2 separate regions of the Homo sapiens genome follow, and region 1 is linked to region 2. Evidence: fine-mapped expression QTL. A gene starts in region 2. The other region holds a variant in brackets. All regions are shown on one strand. Distances are between the middles of the regions. Region 1 overlaps OSBP (oxysterol binding protein). Region 2 holds the start of OOSP3 (oocyte secreted protein family member 3).

Evidence for each region. PIP is the estimated chance that this variant, and not a neighbour inherited with it, causes the effect. A credible set is the group of variants that fine-mapping cannot tell apart.
Region 1: its variant is the best candidate, but not a certain one, in a credible set for the expression of OOSP3 in whole blood (INTERVAL, PIP 0.66).

What each region holds. Positions count from the first base shown.
Region 1 is chr11:59,573,111-59,576,029 of GRCh38, forward strand. It overlaps OSBP (oxysterol binding protein), which reads right to left. Exons shown (of 14, transcript NM_002556.3): 14 at 1,288-2,919. Among named protein-coding and RNA genes, the nearest start is that of TRF-GAA2-1, 8.1 kb to the left of the region's middle. The variant G/A (reference allele first, on the strand shown) is at 1,688.
Region 2 is chr11:59,877,346-59,880,264 of GRCh38, forward strand. OOSP3 (oocyte secreted protein family member 3) reads left to right here and starts at 1,437. Exons shown (of 5, transcript NM_001395255.1): 1 at 1,437-1,536; 2 at 2,916-2,919. The coding sequence starts at 1,464.

The DNA of each region.
Region 1 (2,919 bases), 300 kb before region 2:
TGAGCTGAGATCGCGACACTGCACTCCAGCCTGGGTGACAGAGAGAGACTCCATCTCAAAAAAAAAAAAAGAAAAAAAAGAAATGGTGCTATCGATATTAGCTTCCGGAAATGAAAATGTGCATTTATGCATGATGTGATATAATCTAGGAGGAAAGTACTTAATTATCAGCTGCCTTCCAACCCAGAGTTTCTTCCAGAGCACAGGACTGTAGAGGTCACAAACTCAACCCAGCTTTGAATTCCAACACTGTGACTAACTGACCAGCTACATGACCATGAGTGAATTTATTTAAATTAGGTTTCCTTCATCTTCAAAATGATTGCAACATTTTCTTCTTAAAATCGTTTATGTGCAAGCCAGAGAATGGTCAGAGTTCCTATTTCAGCATGGAGGCAGATCCTATTCCATGGAGGCAGATGCTCAGCAAATGTGAGGTCCCTCCCACGGGCAGGAATTGTGCTTGCTCTGATCTGAGCCCCCGCCAGGACCATAGGTTACTTTGCCTATCCCCTCCCTGAACCTGAACTTTCCAGTGAAAACTTGTACAAACATGTTCACTGTCATTAGTTTTCTCAAAGGTCTTCAAATCAAAACTCAATTGCTTGTTTCAAAAACAGAACTTGAGGCCAAGTGCAGTGGCTCACACCTGTCTGTAATCCCAGCACTTTGGGGGGCAGAGGCTGGTGGATTGCTTGAACCCAGGAATTCAAGACCAGCCTGGGCAACATGGCAAAACCCTGTCTCTACTAAAAATTCAAAAATTAGCTGGTTCTGGTGGCATGCACCTGTGGTCCCAGCTACTTGGGGAGCTGAGGTGGCAAGAATCGCTTGAGCCTAGGAGGTGGATGTTACGGTGAGCTGTCATGCCACTGCCCTCCAGCCTGGGTGACAGAGTGAGACCCTGTCTCAAACAAAAAACAGAATTTGAATTCCTACATAAACAGCCAACAATCTGAGAATCTAAATGGACAAGATAAATTAAATTTACAGGGAAAATTTTTGAAGTGAAGCAGGCCCAGTACCAAAAACACTAAAAACGATTCCCCTGTACTAAGGTGGGATGTTGATGACTGTTAATTTAAGCAGCAGGGGCTGTTAAAACTACTCCTCTGCTCATGGCCCTCCGGAGTGGTGGTGAACAGCTTTACTTTCCATTTCTCATGAAGACCAGGGCTTCTGGGCGCTCAGATTCTTGAGCAGAACAAATTACCATTGGACCAGTTCTCCTTCACCTCCCCAACACCACTTACTGCCTAGCAGCAGAAGTGAATCAGACAAACAATATGACTTTTAAAAAATTATTTAATTTAGTAGTTTTTTTTTTTTGGAAAAAAATCAATAAGGCAAAAAAACTGAAAATATATATAGTTGTGTTTTGTTTTCATGTGACTTTATTCCACCTGAAAGATTCTAAACTTCTTCCATTAGCGGGAATCTGATTGGGATCAGCCAGAAATGTAGTGCAGATGGTGAAGGAAGAGAAGGGGATAAAGCAGAGAAGTCCAATTTAGTTGGGGAATTCTCACTCTATCCAAAGCCCCGGATGAGGTCACTGCTTTTATGAGCCTCCTTGAAAGAAGCCTTGACATAATCCCTGGCTTATTTTGGGAATAAGGTTCTTAGGAGGAAATTCCCCAGCAGTCAAAGTCACTCCTCTCCCATGTTTATCACAACTAGGAAGGAA[G/A]GGATAGGGGAAGAAATAAAAGTATTAATTTACCCAGTAAAACCAATTTCCCCATAGGGATGGCTTCCTTTGGAATGGTATTTCCCCCAGGACCCACGCTGGCTGAGGCTCAGCAGTTAAGGAACAAAAACAAAAAATACTAACAAAAAGCATACAAGGAAGGCACCTCAATTTGTGATCCTCAACCAAGGGTGGGTTGCACAGGGGATATTTCTCAACAAGACAACAAAAACAAATACTGCACAAACAGAGAAGGAAGCCAGGGCCCCACAGGAGCAATTATCTGATCCACCCCACATGACGGTGCTTTAAGCCCCACATCCTAGGAAGAAAGTTCTTTTGGAATTCAGCCTATGCGCCGGACAGAGCAGAATTAAATTGGAAGTTGCCCTCCGGACTTTCTACCCACACTCTTCCTGAAAAGAGAAAGAAAAGAGGCAGGAAAGAGGTTAGGATTTCATTTTCAAGAGTCAGCTAATTAGGAGAGCAGAGTTTAGACAGCAGTAGGCACCCCATGATACAAACCATGGACAAAGTCCCTGTTTAGTAACTGCCAGACATGATCCTGCTCAGGTTTTGAAATCTCTCTGCCCATAAAAGATGGAGAGCAGGAGTGCCATCCACATCAACACGTGTCCAAGAAAGAGTCTCAGGGAGACAAGGGTATCAAAAAACAAGATTCTTAATGGGAAGGAAATCAAACCAAAAAATTAGATTTTTCTCTACATATATATAATATACAGATATTTAACACATTATTCCAGAGGTGGCTCCAGTCCTTGGGGCTTGAGAGATGGTGAAAACTTTTGTTCCACATTAACTTCTGCTCTCAAATTCTGAAGTATATCAGAATGGGACAGGCAATGTTTTGCTCCACACTGGGGCACAGACCCAAAATGGTACTGTGCCAGAAGAAGAGAAGCCAGAAAGACAATGAAGGATGGCATTAAGGGGGGTTGGGAAAGCAAAAGTGGCTAGTAGTCTTTTTCCATCCTGCCTGTGTTCTCAGAAGCTCTCCGCCTGAGGAAGTCCATAAAACCCCTTTGTGAGGAGAATGCACCCCCTTACCAATGACCAAAGTGGTCTCCAGTTGCTATTAAAGATGATGGAGAACAACAGAGGGGTGTTTGATGCAAGTAAAAACAGAAACTTCCAAGAATGTAACTCTGAATATTCCAGCCCTATAGAACAATCTCTCTCACAGGTGTTCCAATATCGCAGTTATCTCCGCG
Region 2 (2,919 bases):
TTATTCCATCTCTTTTTCTGTTATAATATGTGGGTGTGTAGAAGAAGTTAATATGGGAGGTAGATGTGACATGTTTCATTGGGTGAAGGAATTTTTATTTTATTTTTTATATCTCTTATGGGAAGGCTTTGTTTAGACTACTGATTCTGGAACTTGGCCCAATGTCATGCTAGTTGGACTGGTCTCTGTTTTCTTTTAGGTCATTCCAGATTCTCAAAAGATAATGACTAGTGGCACAGATAACATACATATTTTGCAAAGTTTATATTATAGATGTTGGAAGTCTCAGGAGATTATATGATGAGAAATAGGATTTGGATTCATTGTTTTATTCCTTATTGATCCATCAAAGATGTCATTTAATGAGTAGCCCCAGGCACATTTGGTTTATTATTTAAAATTATGATGTTACATTTCAGGTCAAAGGATGCTGAGAATTTATAATGTTGATGTTTTAAAAAGGATCTAATATAAAACAGATATAAATAAAATGAAAATAACTGAAAAAGAATTGGAGATCTGCCTCCCTCCTCCTTCATCAGCAGCCCTGAGGACTTCTGCTTAGAGTTTCTCAAAGTGTGAGCCTCCAGGAGTCACCTGGGGGCAGTTGTTTAAAAATGCAGATTCCTGGGTCTTGCCCCACTGAGTTAGACTGTGAGAATTTGCATGTTTGACAAGACCCTGCAGTGACTCATATGCATTCTTACATTTCCAGCTACAATAGATCTCAATGGACTAGATTGGGGTTAGAATACACATATTTTTAAATGGTGTTCCAGATAATTTTGAAAATTAATCTAAAATTTGGGAGCCATTGAAATAAATACTTTCTAAAGTGAACATGCCTGAGGCACAATCTCAAAGTATGATCCTGGGGTCAGCAGCATCAGCAGCACCTGGAAACTTTCAGCAATGTAAATTCTTGGCCCTTCCATTCCCAGCCCTGAATAAGAATTTCCTGAACACAGTTCAGCTATCGGTGTATTAACAAGTGCTGCAGGTGTTTTTGATGCTGCTAAAGTTTGAAAATCATTTCCCAACAATTCAATAAACATGCATTGACCTTCTGTGAACATTCTGTTCTAGGAACTTTGGAGGGCCTGAAGAAGTCACAGTTCTCAAAGATTTGTCAATGGGACTTTATTTGCAGCCTGATTTTGGTTCTGGAGTGATCAAGAGAATGTCAAGTTTCAGCAGGGAGAAAAAATTATTTCTGTGAATATAAAAATAGTGGTTTTTATAAAGAGTTTTAATTTTGTTCTTTATACTTTCTGTATTTTCCAAACATTAAGCAACTTAAATTGGCAAAAACAATACATTCCTGGAAAATATAAGCCATTGGCAAAAAGTGATTTGTAAATGTAGTCAGCTGGGTGTGGCAGCGGGTATAAAAGTATCAAAAGCAGGGCAGCCGCTTCCAATTTCCTGAATTTTTCAGGGGTCATTAGTTGGCAGCTGACGTCATGAAAGATTTTGTGAGGTTACAGTCCTCTTTCCTTTTGTGCACGATTTTGACTCTTTCTGAGCAAGAGTCAGGTACAAGTGACCTTTATATTTTGTTGTTTGAAGTCATAGTTTCTTAGCGGTTGTGGGCCTTTTACTGTTTGCTGTTTTGAGTGGAAGTGACTTTCCAGTATAGTTTTCTGACTTCTGTAGTGGTATTGCTTTCTCTTGTTTGCTCTCTACCACCCCGCAAAGCAAGTGATTTATCTAGTTTATCCTAATACTTGAGAAAGAGCTAGTTTTATTCTTCCTCTGGATTTAGGTGTTTTCTATTGTGTTTTGTCACCCTATTCACCCTACCTGTGGAAAAATATTTCTCTATTTAAGGTTTCAACTTGCTCTTCCACCTCCCACCCTGATCTCCCACTCATAATCCTGCCACCTGCCTCCTGTCCTGCCCTGTTGCCTCCTAAGTGGTCATGAGTTAGTGATCATAAATCAGGTTGAGAAAATAAAGTTCTTCATTTTTTCTCCTTTCACTTCTTATTCTCCCTAAGTCATAAAGTTGTTATCATTAATATTAATAGTTTTATTTGCATTCCACTTACTTTTTCCATATTTTACAGTAATCTTTTCTCATCTAAACTATATATTTTTATTTATGTACAAAGTTATTGGGTAGAAATAATACATATAAAATACATATAATTTTGTTATTTCTAGTTTTTTTTTTAAACCATGAAAATACAGTGATGAATTGCTTTATCTATAGGATATGTTTTTGTCTAAAAATGTTTTTTGGATATGCTTCTGGTAGTAGAATTAATAGACACAAAATGAAGAAATGCTGTTGTAACACCACAGCTGTGAATGTTTTGAGTTGACAGACTTACCACACAAGGTTTTAATCTGAGACTATCTTCCTTTTGCATCATAGAAGGATACAGGGTGGAGACAGAGCAGGTGCAGATCTTCATCTTATTGGCAGGTCTAGCAGATGCCCCAGGGTACAGTTTCCCTTGTCTCTTCACCCACACGGGATGTAGATGTCTGCCAGGGATGAGAGTCAGAGGCCATAGAAGCTGCAGCTTCAGTGCCCTATCAGTCATTTACACTGGCCTAATTATGTAAACTCAAGGCCAGCACACCAGCTTGAGGCTCCCCCAATCCATGGGCAGCCCCATACAGCAAAAGAAGCAGAGACAGCATCCCATATTTAGCTTAATGTTGAACTTTTAAGGAAACAGTACTCGCAGGGAAGGAGACAGAGGTTGTTTCCAGACAGGCTTGAATGGGACTGATCCTTCATTTACAATTTTACCATTTCATCTGAGTGATCATATTGTATCTCTCAAGGCTGTTTTACAGTGGTGTATATACATATGTTTAAATATGCTATGTTCAGACTTTCTCTGGGTGTCGTTTAGCATAAAATTGCTATCTAAATGTTTAAAAAAATTTTTTTTCAACAGTGTC